4 linked regions of the Homo sapiens genome follow. The protein of the gene in region 4 purifies or fractionates together with the protein of the main gene of each other region. This does not show direct contact. Each region holds a gene or a part of one and is shown on either strand. Other genes may lie near its edges.

Region 1 (3,500 bases), on a different chromosome or scaffold from region 4:
GCCTAGCCAACATGGTGAAGCCCCGTCTCTACTAAAAATACAAAAATTAGCTGGGCATGGTGGTACACACCTGTAATCCCAGCTACTCAGAAGGCTGAGGCAGGAGAATTGCTTGAACCCCATAGGCAGGGGCTGCAGTGAGCCAAGATCACACCACTGCACTCCAGCTTGGGTAACACAGCGAGACCCTGTCTCAAAAAAAAAAAAAGTTTATTGAATGAATGAACTACAGGTAAAGGTGGAGATGACCCTACACATTAAGCAACGGACTTACCCAAGGGCAGCTGGTGGAAACCAAAGATGTTTTGGCAAATCCAGGAGTGGCTCACAGATGGCCTGTGACCTCACTCTAGGAAGTGGAGGGGCCCTGCCCTGGCCACTCAGAGGCATGGCAGAGGTCTCTCTGGTTCTCCTTCCAGCATTTAGGGGTGCGGAGCGGCTGGCACAGGCCTCTCACACAACCTGACTGATGGAGAGATGGACGGGGCGGGTGCCCCTGGAGGAAGTGGGCCCGGAGTCCAACCTTTTAACATGGGCTGAGATTTATGGAGCCGCCGCCAGCACTTGCTGGGACTGTCACTCTGCTAATGTGATTGGAACACAGTGGAGGTGGTGGGGAGGGGGCTGTGGTAGGGACGATGCTGGGGCTGGAATGGAGCCCAGCCTGGTCCCCGGAGGTGCTCTGCCCTCCCCTATACCCCTGCTCCTCCCACCATCCTTTGAGTTCATCCAGTCCTAATCGCCTACCTGCCCAAGTTAGACCCCATCTGACTCTGCCCAGACACACCCATCTTCCCGTGGGGTCCCTGGACATCCCTCCTACAGGAGTTCAGGCCTCTACCCGCGCCCCTCCCATGACCAGCCACCCATTGTTCGAACACGCACAAGGGCCATCCTGCCTGCCCTGGCCACTCTGCCCAGAACCCTGATGCACTGCCCTGCTCCATGTCTTCGTCCCGCAGCCCTGATTCCCTGCTTGCGTTTTGTGTTTGTTCTTCATTGCCTGCCTCCCCACCGGAATGGACTCCCCCGAGGGCAGGGTTATGGGAGATTCTGAGCTCCTAGAAGAGCTTCCTGCTTTGAAGTAAATAATTAACATCTGTGGTGCAGTGAGTGGCACCCTCTGTGTGCCCTGGGAGCCAGGGACACAGCTCTCAGTCTGGCACCCACATCCCATCCCCTCACCCTGGGGACTGCCAGTCTGCCAGTCCCTCAATGGAGAGGGGCAGCAGGCAACACCCTGGCCAACACCCCAATCAGCATCCTAGCCAACAGCCCAACCAACATGCCAGCCAACACCCCAACAACATGCCAGCCAACACCCCAACCAGCATGCCAGCCAACACCCCAAACAATACACCAGCAAACACCCCAACCAACACCCCAACCAACACCCCAGCCAACACGCCAGCCAACACCCCAACAAATACCCCAACCAACATGCCAACCAGCATCCTAACACCCCAACCAACTCGTGCCAACCAATATGCCAGCCAACACCCCAACCAACATGCCAACCAACACCCCAGCCAACACTTCAACACCCCAACCAACATGCCAGCCAACACGCCAGCCAACATCCCAACCAACACCTCAACCAACACACCAGCCAACATCCCAACCAACACCCCAACCAACACATGCCAACCAACATGCCAGCCAACACCCCAACCAACATGCCAGCCAACACCCTGGCCAACACCCCAACCAACATGCCAGCCAACACCCCAAACAATACACCAGCAAACACCCCAACCAACACTCCAGCCAACATGCAAGCCAACACCCCAACCAATACCCCAACCAACATGCCAGCCAACATCCCAAACACCCCAACCAACTCGTGCCAACCAATATGCCAGCCAACACCCCAACCAACATGCCAACCAACACCCCAACCAACATGCCAGCCAACATGCCAGCCAACACCCCAACCAACACACCAGCCAGCACCCCAACTAACACCCCAAACAACACTCCAACCAACACCCCAGCCAACACCTCAAGCAACATGGCAGCCAACACCCCAATCAACATGCCAGCCAACATCCCAACCAACACATGCCAACCAACATGCCAGCCAACGCCCCAACCAACACACCAACCAACACCCCAACCAACACCCCAGCCAACACCCCAACCAACATGCCAGCCAGCACCCCAACCAACACCCCAACATGTCAGCCAACATCTCAACCAACACTCCAGCCAACACCCCGGTCAACACCCCAGCCAACATCCCAGCCAACACTCCAACCAACACTCCAACCAACACCCCAACCAACACCCCAAACAACATACCAGCCAACACTCCAACACCCCAACATGCCAGCCAACACCCCAACCAACATGCCAGCCAGCACCCCAACCAACACCCCAGCTAACACTCTGGGCAACACCCCAACCAATATGCCAACCAACACCCCAGCCAACACACCAACCAACACCCCAGGCAACACTTCAACCAACACCCCAACCAACCCCCCAACCAACACCCCAGCCAACCCCCCAACCAACACCCCAACCAACACCCTGGGCAACACCCCAGCCAACACCCCAGCCAACACCCCAACCAACAACCCAGCCAACACCCCAACCAACACCCCAACCAATACCCCAGGCAACAACCCAACCAACATCCCAGCCAACACCCCGGCCAACACCCTGGTGTGGGTAGTGGCGTGGAGTTCCTGCCAGGAGGGGCCGGCGCAACTGGGGCTCAGAAGATGGGGCTGGGACTGGCCTGCAGGGCTTTGGGGCCCGAGCCCACTGTTTTTACGGCAAATGTGCGGTGATTTAGAGCAGAAGAGGGCTGCAGTCTCAGGGGAGCAGAGAAGGGAGTCTCCCGGGCACCCCCAATGCAGTGAGAGCCCCCAGGGGCTGCTGGGGCTAAAGGGACTTAACCTGGAGGGCACAGGACTCCTGTGCCTGCCTCACTCTGGGCCTGGACCCCCACCCACCACACCCTGGGGCCGAACTAGATGGTGCTGGCAATGCAGTGAGTCCTGGGGAAGTCCCCCTACTCCCTTACTACCCATTCTTCCCTGGAGCTCTCTCTGAGTTGAGGGAGCTATGCCAAATGCTGGGACTCAGGGCTTGGCTCTGCCTTCAGGGAGACCCAGTTTGGTAGGAGGCTTCCCAGCAGAGGGAGCATTTGACTTGGGTCCCGAAGGCTAAATAGGAGTTCTGCAGGTAGAGCAGGATGGACGGGCCCCCCAGGGGGAAGGCCTGTGTCTGCTTCAGGAAGGCTTGATGGGCTTGGGGCAGCTGCCAGCCTTCCCGACAGACCCTTTGGCCTGGTGTCTGCCAGGCCCCCTCCTCTCTCCCACCTCCCTCCTGGAAAGCTTTTACTGGCTCAATAAAAACATTTTTTAAAACACTCTCCTATTGTATGGTAAGAAGGGAGGCAGGTCCTAAATCAGGATGGGAATCGACAGAGCCCTGACGCCCGTGTCTCTCCTGTTTATTAGGACTGAAATGTTTACTCGGAGATAAGGAGC
Region 2 (3,500 bases), on a different chromosome or scaffold from region 4:
GTTTTTGAGACCTAAGAAAGGAAAGGGTGAAGTTGTTCAGAATAGTCCTAATTTTGGGTCTGTGTTTAAATTCTTTTCAGCCTTAACATGTTCTGAGAATTCTTTTTAATAATGCACACTTTTGGACAACAGTTAAATATATAGCTTACATAAATTTATTGATTATAAATGTGAATAACTTTGTTTTTATTTTTTAAGGAACTAAAACAGAACCGAAGTCAGGAAATTGATGACCATCAACATGAAATGTCAGTACTGCAGAATGCACACCAACAGAAATTGACAGAAATAAGTCGACGACATCGAGAAGAATTAAGTGACTATGAAGAACGAATTGAAGAACTTGAAAATCTGTTACAACAAGGTTATTAGTTTTATTTCTTTATTATTATTATTTTTTTTGAGATGGAGTCTCCATCTGTTGCCCAGGCTGGAGTGCACTGGCGCGATCTCGGCTCACTGCAACCTCCGCCCCCCGGGTTCAAGCGATTCTCCTGCATCAGCCTCCCAAGTAGCTGGATTACAGGTGCCTGCCACCATGCCCAGCTAATTTTTGTATTTTTAGTAGCAATAGGGTTTCGCCATATTGGCCAGGCTGGTCCCAAACTCGTGATCTCGGGTGGTCCACCCACCTCGGCCTCCCAAAGTGCTAGGATTACAGGCATGAGCCACTGCACCTGGCCAGTTGATAGTTTTATTAATTTAACATATTAGATGACATAACTAAATGATAGACCTAGCATTCTAAGACCAGGACAGTGCTGTAAACTTGCCCTAAGTTATAAGGAAGTGTAAATGACTAGTTCTGCTTATCTGCCAGAAATTTGCAGTGGCACCTCTGCTTTTAAGATTCTGTGGCCGGGAGTGGTGGCTTATGGCTATAACCCCAGCATTTTGGGAGGCCAAGGTGTGTGGATCACTTGAGGCCAGGAGTTTGAGACCAGCCTGGCCAACATGGCGAAATCCCGTCTCTACTAAAAATACAAAAATTAGCTGGACGTGGTGGTGCTCGCCTGTGGTCCCAGCTACTCAGGAGGCTGAGGTGGGAGGATCACTTGAGCCCAGGAGGCAGAGGTTGCAGTGAGCCGAGATGGCACCACTGCCCTCCAGCCTGGGCAACAGAGTGAGACTCCATCTCAAAAAAAAAAAAAAAATTCTGTGAAAATGGAAATGTCCTTTTTACCTTTGTGGTAAATAGTTATAATTTATAGATTTCTTTGCATTGTTTGGTGATGATACTTTGGTAATAAATGATTAGAGATATTATCACTTTCTTTCAAACTAAGATACATAGGCCTTTATGTAGTTGATTCAAATATTTTCCCCCAACTTATTTATTTTAAAACACTTAGTTTATTATAGTAATTTAACTTTTAAGCTTTCCAAATTCTGAACTGTCTTATATCTCTTAGTTGTATATAGCAAACCGTTTATTTCTTGGTACTTGACATTTGATGTCATTGTTTTGTGTTTATGTTCTAGGTGGCTCTGGAGTTATAGAAACTGATCTCTCTAAAATCTATGAGATGCAAAAAACTATTCAAGTTCTACAAATAGAAAAAGTGGAGTCTACCAAAAAAATGGAACAACTTGAGGATAAAATAAAAGATATAAATAAAAAATTATCTTCTGCAGAAAATGACAGAGATATTTTGAGGAGAGAACAAGAACAGCTAAATGTGGAAAAGAGACAAATAATGGAAGAATGTGAAAACTTGAAATTGGAATGTAGTAAATTGCAGCCTTCTGCTGTGAAGCAAAGTGATACTATGACAGAAAAGGAAAGAATTCTTGCCCAGAGTGCATCAGTGGAAGAAGTGTTCAGACTACAACAAGCACTGTCTGGTATACAGTCTTTGGAACTTATTTCAGATTGCTGTTTCATTGCATAGTAGTTGTTTTTAGAGACAGATGCTTCACTAACTGAATACTTAGTGGAAATGGCATATTCCTGGAAATGACTGTGTGTCATTTGGGTAGAATTGTGTGGTTTGGATTCAGTGTAAGAGTTAATAGATTGCAAATAGGAATTTCCTATTAAAAAGGATTAGGTATTGCTATACTTTCTGTAACTCATCACAGCCCACATCCTCCAGTTAGGGAATACAGCCTTTCTTCTTCAAAGTCAGTTGTTACCTGTTTGAAACGATCTCCTATATCCAAGCAAAGCCCTGAGTGCTTAGAGCCATAGGTCTTCCACCATTTTCTATGCTCATGATGATATTTAGTTACTGTACCAGTATTCTGTGTTACAGAAAATTAGTACTAAATGAAATAGGCCAAACACCAGTAAATAAAATAAATTTTAAAGTAATTGTACTTACGTTTTAAAAAATAAGTTTACTTATTTAAAAAATAAATTTACTTACATAAGACTAATACATTTACTTACTTATCATATTGGGTGATCCAGATGAGTTTATGTGCTTAAAAGACAAACCCACTGCCTTAGTCCTTCCTCTTTTTTCTATTCCATTGACACAGAATTACTTCAGCCAGTCATAATTGCTTTTTGCCTATGTTAACTATGGCAGCTCTCTGAATGGAGCAGAATAGCGTAGTGGTTAAGGACATGACTGGGTTGGAATCGAGCTCTATCACTAATTAGCTGACCTTGGACAGGTTAACATCTCTATGCATTGGTTATTTCATCTATAGGGTTGGGATAATAATGGTATCTTCCTTGTAGTTTTAGTAATGAGGATTATATGAGTTACTTTCTGCCGCTCTTTAGGATAGTGTCTAGCCAATAGTAAATGTTGAAGAGTTAGCTTTTTTTTTGTTTGTTTTTTTGAGACAGAGTCTCGCTCTGTAGCTCAGACTGGAGTGCAGTGGCACGATCTCGGTTCACTGCAACCTCCACCTCCCGGGTTCAAGTGATGCTCCTCCCTCAGCCTCCCAAGTAGCTGGGACTACAAGCATGTGTCACCACGCCCAGCTAATTTTTGTATTTTTAGTAGAGACAGGGTTTCACCATGTTGGCCAGGATGATCTCGATCTCTTGACCTCATGATCTGCCCACCTTGGCCACCCAAAGTGCTGGGATTACAGGCGTGAGCCACCGCCCCCAGCTGAAGAGTTAGCTTTTAAAATTCTCTGTTCTCCATGATTCCTTCAATCTATTTTTTTCATTCTGCAGCCAGAATAATTTGTCAGAAATGCAAAGCAGGTTACTCCCCTGCATTTAGTACTTTATAGCTGCCTGTGAACTTCGGGATGATGTTTAAATTTCTTAGTTAGACATGATAATGTCTCTCATGATCTAGTTCCTGCCTATCTCTTCAGTTTCAACTATTCCCATGCTCCTGACATTCTAAACTTGAACCATATTGAATTTTCTATAGCTCCTTAAAGCAGCAATGTTACCTCTTCACTCTGTTACCCTTGCATTTTCTGCTTTCTCTGTGTGGAGTGTCTCTATGGCTCTTTTAGCCGACTCTCAGTATATTGATTCAGTGCAGGTATTAACCTCCACTGAGAAGTACCTAGCACTGCCACTT
Region 3 (3,500 bases), on a different chromosome or scaffold from region 4:
ACTTTTGAAGTACCCAATTGATACATTATTTTATGGCTATGGATGGTGAATGGTGTTGAGATCCAAATTTTAAAGGATCATGACCATTGATCTCCAAAGTCAAGCAATAAATAGGTTTCTGAAGTTAATGACTGCATAGTCCATAGAAATGAATTATCGTAAACTGGTGGTTTCTTACATTCTCAAAATGAAAAATTATAAACAACAGAGTAGTTGTTGCCAGGGGTTGGTTGGGGATAGTGGGAGAGAGGAGTCAGCGTGGTTATAAAGGGATAGGATGAGAAAGAACTTTGTGGTGAGAGATTGGCGCAAGATCTTGATTGCAGTGCTGGTTACACAAATCTAGAACACCTAGGATTAATCTATGGCAGTGGTCTCAAATATTTTGGTGTCAGCATTCATTTACATTCTAAAAGTTATTGAGGACCCCAATGAGTGTTTGTTTATATGGGCTGTATCTATTAATATTTACCATACTAGAATTTTAAACTAACAACTTTTTTAAACACAAGAATAAGCACACAATTCCATTGGCCTTAAGAGTGATAATGTCATATGTCATGTAGCCACTGGCAAACTCCACTGAACAGTCATGAGAGAATGAGAATGAAACGGGGAAAAAAAATCTTAATAATTACTAGGAAAGTCGTTTTGATCTTGTGAATTCCCTGAAAGGATCTCAGAGTGGCGAGTGGGGCAGAGTCCAGGAGTCCCAAAACCATATGTTGAGAACTGCTGCTTTTTAATATGTAGATGTCATTTTACCCTGAGAGGCTTGAATTTTTTAATCCCTAAAAAGGGTTAATAGTAACGGTGCGTTTCTATTGGGGATAATTGTAAAGACTATAACTATGTATGTAAAATGCTTGTGAGCATAGTGCTTAGAAGATAGTAAACACATAAAAATGTTGTCTATTGTTTTTGCTGGAGTGGTGGTTGCTATTCTTGGTTCTCATTGGGAAAAGATTTGCAGATTAGTGATGTCTGATAAAATGAAGTTACTTTTTTGTTCAGCTGTTTTTTTTTTTTTTTTAAAAGGCTCAAATACAGCTTTTCTGTCCAAAGTATACTGTCCAAAACAAATTAAATATCTCAAATTCTGTTTTTGAGGCTTCATTTACAGTAGATATAAAGTATCACACTGGTGGCAGTTACACATATTTTTGCTGTTTGTTTTCTTAATATTCCTTCTTACATCTTTTGTTTTCACAGACAATATTATCCTTAACTAATTAATTATATGCAGATTCTTTTTGTTGAGGGCTAGTATTAAGATTTGCCTCTTACCAAATAATGGTATTCTTGTAATACCGTCATATGTTAAGGAGTTTCAGATTGCATGCCTATATGATAGCCCCTAATTACTCTCTCCTAATTTGCTGTGATGATTTCTTAGTTTTATGGGACCTTGTCAGATGGAACACTTTACTGAGCTAGGGTAGGAAAATTTCTCTGAGACAAGTATGAGTGGAAAGAGAGACCTGAACTAAATGGAAGTAATGATGTGAAAGATACCTCTTGATTCATTCTGATTAGACTTCCACTGTAGGGACAGCAGTAAATAAAGCTTTGCCAAGAGCCTGGGATGAAAATAAAGAATACACTTTACCTCTTCATCAAGTATTTATTGAGTGCTTATCATATATTTAGGCATTGGAAATACAGCGGTGTATAAACCAGACAAAAATCCCTGCCCTCAGGTTGTGAAAGTGGAGCAACACAGGCAATAACTTAAAAATTAAATATGTAGAATATCTGTTTGTCAAAGGTGCTACAGAGAAAAGAGCAGGGGTGAAAAATAGGGAGTGCTACTTAAAATTAGGTAAAGAAATCAGGGAGGGCTTTACTAACAAGGTAATATTTGGTCAGAGACCTATAGGGAGACAAGGCATGAGCCATGCATTTATATGGGGGAAGAACTTCTCTAGCAGAAGAAACAGCAAGAGCAAGACTCCTGAACATTTGTGATATGTTCCAGAAGTTTACAAGCACCTAGTGTGGAGTGAGCAGTAGTAGATGAGTAGTAATGGAGTGTCAGTAGAAGGGAGGAAATACTGTCAAAGGTAAGAGGTTATAAATCATCTGGCCCTTGAGGGAAGTTAATTGAACATTAAGGCTTGATAGAAAGTATTAGTGGCTAGGGTCCATTAATGACTGTCTTGTTGTAGTTTTGTAAATATTTATCTTTATTACTGATAAGTGAGAGCACTACAAATTACAAATTTTAATTGTAATTTGGATTTAAGACTGCTTATTAATTTAATTTTTTTCAAGGTTCGCTTCTATGAGCTAGTGAATCCATTAAGAAAGGAAATCTGTGAACTACAAGTGAAAAAGAATATCCTAGCAGAAGAATTAAGTACAAACAAAAACCAACTGAAGCAGCTGACAGAGGTTTGTATGGTTTTGATTGCTGGTGGGAAGAAGCTTCGGCTTTTTCTGTAGAGTCCCTCAGGATTTGTGATAAGGCATATAAAAGTCAGTGATTGAAAAATGGGACTATGGGATGGTGACTGCTACAGTTCAATAATGGGAAGGAGGTTAAATTGGAAGTAGTCATCTTAAACATTGACAAGACAAGTCTGTGTTATTGACGTATCCTATAGTTGAGCTTTTATTGTTGCAAGTCAATTTTATAATCAACTGCTTTTGAAATCCTAATATGGGCTATATCTGAAAATTGCTGTGTATCCTTAGATGACGCATATGCATGTATTTATTTAGTAATTTGTCTCTATTTTTAACATCACTTTGTCAGGAAATTTAAGCAAGAAACAAGAAATGTAGGCCAAGCTATGCAGGGGATCTCTTGCAGGTGCCATAAGAAAGAAGAAAAGGAGAATATTTTTACTTTGAACTAAGTTGACTCGTAGGTTCTGGTTTGCCTAAGACTGTTGCCATTATTCCTGTGAATAAATATTAATAGCACCCCTTTATTTTCAAAATTATCTCAGCCTAGACGATGAATATAGTAATCATAAATCAACATTTATATAGAAGGGTGGACTAATCATTAACTTGGTTGTATTATTGACCAGATATCCTAGAATACTATCTTGTAGTTATAGTCTACTAACAAAAAAATAATGGTAGATTGATTCATTCTACCATGTAACAGTTGGAAATGGGTGGCTGTTTTTCTTCAAATATTTCGTTATTCTAAAAGGAAAACACTTCTAGTTTACAAATGGGGGCTGCTGCAGTTCTTCATTACAAGTTAGCCTTGTTCGTGATATGAGATGGAGCTACTGTCCATTTATTACTTACGTGGCTTCTTTGTGAAGTGCAGTTAACTCTCATAATATTTATTCTGAGCATGTGTACTGATACTAGCATTAACCCCAGTGGTGTGCATGGTGCTGTGCTAGGTGCTGGCAGTGAACCCAAGAGAGGCAATGCCTGCCCTTCTAGAGTTTACTTTCTAGCAGGTTAGGATTAGAACGTTAGGTGATATTTTGACACTCTCATTTACTGTGTGACCATGACCAGGTCATTTAATG
Region 4 (5,496 bases):
CTGACTGCAAGCTCCGCCTCCGGGGTTCACGCCAGTCTCCTGCCTCAGCCTCCCGAGTAGCTGGGACTACAGGCACCCACCAACATGCCCAGCTAATTTTTTTGTGTGTATTTTTAGTAGATACAGGGTTTCACCATGTTAGCCAGGATGGTCTCGATCTCCTGACCTCGTGATCCACCCGCCTCGGCCTGCCAAAGTGCTGGGATTACAGGCGTGAGCCACCGGGCCTGGCTGACTATTGTCACTTTTATAGGGTGGGAATTGTGGGGCTTGTGCTGGGCCTCCAGCTGTGGTACCTGGTCGGGGGAGTTGTCCACGCTGTATTTGTCTTCACTGAGGGTCCTGGTGCAGCTGCCCACAGGCCTGGCCAAGGTGCTGGGGGAAAGCTCCCGAAATGAGAAACCAGCCCTGTCTTGGGGAGAGATGTGCCTTTGAGGCTGACATCTACATGCTGGGTGGTCTGGGACCCACATCTAGAATCTTCGCAATGTCCATGTCTCTCATGCCTGTGAAACGCCCCTGCTCTCCCCTTAAAGGTATAACTTCTGCATGTTTGTGTTACGAAGGTTTGTTTATCTTATCAAGGAGTTCCTCATCCTAGTTCAGCTTTCTTTGAGGTTTCCTGGATTAATGATCTCAGAGGCTCTGCTTGTAGCTCCACTGTGATCACCTGATAGTTTGGGGGAGGTTTTGTACCTAACATTTCTACCGTCCTAACAACTCCTGCAGTGCACAGAGAACACCCCTAGCATGAACAGTGTGAGGATTCCACCAGCTTTTTCACCATGAAGGAGACAGACCGGGAGGCCGTTGCGACAGCAGTGCAAAGGGTTGCTGGGATGCTCCAGCGCCCGGACCAGCTGGACAAGGTGGAGCAGTATCGCAGGAGAGAAGCGCGGAAGAAGGCCTCCGTGGAGGCCAGATTGAAGGTGAGGCCACCTGCCCCACTCCCAGGATCTGTCTTGGGCTTCAGGTTCTTGCTTGACATCACCATGATGATTTTGCTAAACTAGCCTTTATGGTAATGTGCAAGGAGGCAGAGCTGGACTTTCTTGAGCAGTTACTTTCAGCAGTGTATTACCACTCAGTAGCTTTGCTTAGAAGACAGTGGGAATGGTGAAAACACCAAAGGAACAAGCTTTTAAACACCCTGAGGCCGGGTGCGGTGACTCATGCCTGTAATCCCAGCACCTCGGGGAGGCCGAGGCAGGCGGATCACCTGAGGTCAGGAGTTCAAGACCAGCCTGGTCAACATGGTGAAACCCTGTCTCTATGAAAATACAAAAATTAGCCAGGCATGATGGTTGACGCCTGTAATCCCAGCTACTTGGGAGGCTGAGGCAAGAGAATCGCTTGAACCCAGGAGGCAGAGGTTGCGGTGAGCCGAGATGGTGCCATTGCATTCCAGCCTGGGCAACAGAGTGAGACTCTGTCTCAAAAAGAAAAAAAAAACACAGAAACAAAAACAACACCCTGAAAGTGTCTATTAAGTTTTTAAACAATACTGGAGGAAGGAGAAGTAGTCTTATTTAAAGCTCTTCTACAGAGCACCACTAGAGGGCATTTTGTTCAGATTGTTTTAACTCACATTTGACAGAGAGCGGATCTGAAGCTCAGGTGCCGATTCTGTCCTGTGGGTCAGCCGTCCTGGGGCCAAGTGTGGTGCTGGCTGAACAGCAGGAACTCCCCCACCCCAAGCCAGTGAAGTCCTGACCGTTCTCTCTGCCTAGACAAGACCTTTTAGGAACCTAGGATGCCTGGGAGAGCATGGGTGACATCCTTCTGAAGGTACCGTAGCAGGCCACGGCCCAGGGCAGACCCGTGGTAGTGTCCAGGATCACCAGGTGTGAGGCTAGATGAGGAGTGTCCTGACCTTTTCTCATCAAGGCTTTAAAATGCATCATTGTTCTGTTCCCAGGCAGCAATGAAGAAAAAGGTACACTGTGAATCAATTAAATCCTTGTTGATTTTATTTTCTTTTCTGGGTATTGACTGTTTCCTGCTACTCAGTGGCTCTTTCCTGAACTTGACCCTCCTGGGGAAGATTTGTTCTTCAGGAGGCAGCGCATGGCTATCATTGGCTCTGCTCACCCGTGTGGCGTCTCTCTTTAGGCCGCCATCCAGTCACAGTTGGACGGGGTGCGCACAGGCCTCAGCCAGCTCCACAACGCCCTGAATGACGTCAAAGACATCCAGCAGTCGCTGGCAGACGTCAGCAAGGACTGGAGGCAGAGCATCAACACCATTGAGAGCCTCAAGGACGTCAAAGACGCCGTGGTGCAGCACAGCCAGCTCGCCGCAGCCGTGGAGAACCTCAAGAACATCTTCTCAGGTACCAGCCAGACGCCGAGGCACTTGCCCCCACTCACGCTGTCTTTGCATGACTCACTGAGTGCTCTGTGTGCAGTGTGCTTTGCAGCCCGCACTGTAGACCTGTAGACGGTAAGTGTGATTCTTGTCTGCTCAGCGTCTTTTTTTGAACGTGGATGGAAGTGATCAGCTGAGCATGTAAAGGCTAGGAGAAGGCTTGTAGTTCAGTGTCAGGACAGAGGCCCAGAAGCGGGCTGCCCAGCAAATGCAGTGTGGAGGGATTCCCTGGCTGAGTGTCGTTCCCTTGCTTGCGATGTGGCTGTTAGACTCTGTGAGTGCAGAAGAATGAAGACGCCGTGGCCCATGCTTAAAAGGAGCTGCAGGAGAAGCCACCCTGTGCATGGGACAGAGCAAGCAGATCCCAGAGCAGAAGGGTTGAGGCGAGCAGCAGCTCCCAGGCAGGAGGAGAAGCGTGTGTGCACAGGCCAGGGCAGAGGCGGGGCTGAGCGCCGTGGGGGAGTGACCCTTTCAGTCTTCTCCCTGAATGCCTCAGTTAGAAGGATGCCAAGGGCCCTGTAACCTGTCCCTGAACGGTGCCAGCTGGCCCTGGGTGGTGGCTCCCAGCATTTGTGTTCACAGTCTCCTCCTGCTTGCTGTGACAGGAGCTGCTTCCACAGCCTCATCCCTCCCCTTGGTCCCCGCTCTGTGTCAAGGTCAGCAGCATCCTTCCAGTCCCCAACTCAGAAGCCTTGGCAGGGTCTGATTCCTTCCCTTTCTTTGTTCCTGTCTCTGGCCTCTTGGCAAGTTCTTCCTGTTCCTCTACCAGACGTCTCTGCCCTGATGTCTGTATGACACTTCCCCATCCCCAGCCGTCACGTGCCCCAGCTCACCCTTCACAGTGGCTGTGCTGCATCATCTGTGACGCTGCTCGGCTCCTGAGGCCACGTGTGAATTGGCGCGGTTCTCCCCAGCTGCCCACAGCGCACCTTGGTAATCCGTGTCCCGTCCACCCTGTCCTCTCTGCCCTCCTCTCGTGCTTGCGGCTGCAGCATTGCCGAGCACCTTGTCCCGTTGCTTTGTGTGTGCCCTTCTTCCAGGGCATGATCCGTAGGGTCACATGTGTGGCTGCAGTCCGTGTCTCTTTGTGCATGCCCAACACGAACGCCACTGTGCTGCCAACTCAGAAAGCAGCTCTTCTTGGTGACTGTGGGCCGCCTGGAACAGGAATAAAGTCCTCTCGACGGAGTCTCCTTGGTGATGCTCAGCTGGCAGCTTTCTAGTTAATTTCCTCTTATTTCGTATTGGCTGGCTACATTTCCTTCCGGTCTTTTAAACTAATGCCTGATGACCAAAAAGGTGCATTACTGGAATTAGTTTATCCACAGCAGTTGAAAATAATTTCCTTTCCTTGGTGAACAAATGAGCCTGCGTGGTATGCATGTTTTTTGTTACGGATAAATTTTCATTGAGAAGATTGGTTTGGTTGCCTTCAGACTTGTCTCATTGCCTATAACTCAGCAATGCTGTGTACACAGCTCCCCTCCCCCATTTTTTCTTCTTCTAAAATGCATATGTACAGTTTGCCGTCTTAACCATTTTTAAGTGTACAGTTGGGGACTATTAAGAACATTCATATTGTTGTGCAACCATTGCCACATCCGTCTTCAGAACTCTTTTCATCTTGCAGACATGAAAATCTGTACCCATTAAACACTGACTTCGCACCCTCTGCCCCAGCTCCTGGTCACCACCATTCTGCCTTCTGTCTCTGTGAATTGGATGACTCTGAAGACCTCATAGAAGTGGCATCACACATTATCTGTCTTTCTGTGACATGCTTATTTCACTCAGCATGATGTCCTCAGGGGTCTTCTATGCTGTGGTATTGTAGAATTTCCTTCACTTTTAAGGCTGAATAATATTCCATTGTATGGATGGACCACATTTTGCTTATCCGTTTGTCTGTTGGTGGACATTTGAATTGCTTCCACGTTTTAGCTATTGTGAATAATGCTGTAGTGAACATGGGTGTACAGATGTTTTACTTTTATTTCTTTCTGGTATATACACACAAGTGTAATTGCTGGACCATGTGGTAATTTATGTTTAAATCTTTGAGCAGCTGCCAGACTGTTTCCTCCGGTGGCTGCAGCATTTTCCACCATGAGTGTGTGAGGTTTCTGATTCGTCTGCATTTTCATTCTTCTCTTAGGTTTTTAAAAATATCCCTTATGGCTGGGTGCGGTGGCTCACGCCCGTCATCCCAGCACTTTGGAAGGCTGAGGCAGGCGGATCACCTGAGGTCAGGAGTTTGAGACCAGCCCGGCCAACATGGTGAAACCCCGTCTCTACTAAAAATATAAAAATTAGCCGGGCGTGGTGGCAGGCGCCTGTAATCCCAGCTACTCAGGAGGCTGAGGCAGGAGAATCACTTGAACCCAGGAGGCAGAGGTCACAGTGAGCCGAGATCGCACCACTGCACTCCAGCCAGGGGGACAAGAGCGAGACTTCATCTGAAAAACAAAACAAAACAAAACAAAAGTCCCTTATGTTTCCTTTTTTGCCCCATTAATTGTTTAAGAGTATGTTGTTTAATTTCCACAAATTGGTGAATTTTACAGTTTTCCTTCTGATACTGATTTCTAATGTCATCTGTTGAGTTTGGAGAAGATACTTTGTATGATATTTATCTTTTAAAAACCTGAGTCTTAATTTGAGGCCTAATCCATGGTCTTTCCTGAAGACTGTCCCATGTGCACGTGAGAATAGTGTGTGTTCTGTTGTTGGGTGTTCTTTCTGTGTCTGTTCAGTCTGGTTGGTTGGTTGCATTGTTCAAGTCCTCTCTTTCCTTGTTTAGCTTCTGTCTGCTTGTTCTGTCCATTATTGAGAGAGAGATATTGAAGCCTCCGACTATTACAGAACTGAATGTTTTTCCCTTCAGTTCTATCCATTTTTGCTTCATGTATTTTGACGGTCTGTTAGTAAATGCAGAAATATTTATAATTGTTACATCTTCTTGCTGAACCTTCTATTAATACATATGGCCTTCTTTGTGACTAGTTTTTTTTTTTTTAATTTAAAGTATATTTCATATTTATTAGTATAACCACTCCTGTTCTCTTTTGGTTATTATTTATATGGAATATCTTTTTCCACCCTTTTACTTTCAACCTATTTGTGTCTTGG

Evidence for each region. Proteins that work in one complex are often made in the same cells at the same time.
Region 1: the proteins of EXOC3 (region 4) and MACROD1 purify together in Homo sapiens (affinity purification with mass spectrometry; 2 studies listed by BioGRID and IntAct, with this or other methods). This does not show direct contact.
Region 2: the proteins of EXOC3 (region 4) and TRIP11 purify together in Homo sapiens (co-immunoprecipitation; 3 studies listed by BioGRID and IntAct, with this or other methods). This does not show direct contact.
Region 3: the proteins of EXOC3 (region 4) and PIBF1 purify together in Homo sapiens (affinity purification with mass spectrometry; 2 studies listed by BioGRID and IntAct, with this or other methods). This does not show direct contact.

What each region holds. Positions count from the first base shown.
Region 1 is NC_000011.10:64,009,114-64,012,613, reverse strand, and holds part of MACROD1 (ADP-ribose glycohydrolase MACROD1), read left to right. Parts: intron 1-3,500. UniProt on the Homo sapiens protein: Removes ADP-ribose from aspartate and glutamate residues in proteins bearing a single ADP-ribose moiety. Inactive towards proteins bearing poly-ADP-ribose.
Region 2 is NC_000014.9:92,012,560-92,016,059, reverse strand, and holds part of TRIP11 (thyroid receptor-interacting protein 11), read left to right. Parts: intron 1-198; coding exon 199-364; intron 365-1,482; coding exon 1,483-1,845; intron 1,846-3,500.
Region 3 is NC_000013.11:72,795,633-72,799,132, forward strand, and holds part of PIBF1 (progesterone-induced-blocking factor 1), read left to right. Parts: intron 1-2,274; coding exon 2,275-2,394; intron 2,395-3,500.
Region 4 is NC_000005.10:445,421-450,916, forward strand, and holds part of EXOC3 (exocyst complex component 3), read left to right. Parts: intron 1-729; 5' UTR 730-785; coding exon 786-929; intron 930-1,400; exon of another isoform or gene 1,401-1,788; intron 1,789-1,918; exon of another isoform or gene 1,919-1,972; intron 1,973-2,112; coding exon 2,113-2,332; intron 2,333-5,496. UniProt on the Homo sapiens protein: Component of the exocyst complex involved in the docking of exocytic vesicles with fusion sites on the plasma membrane.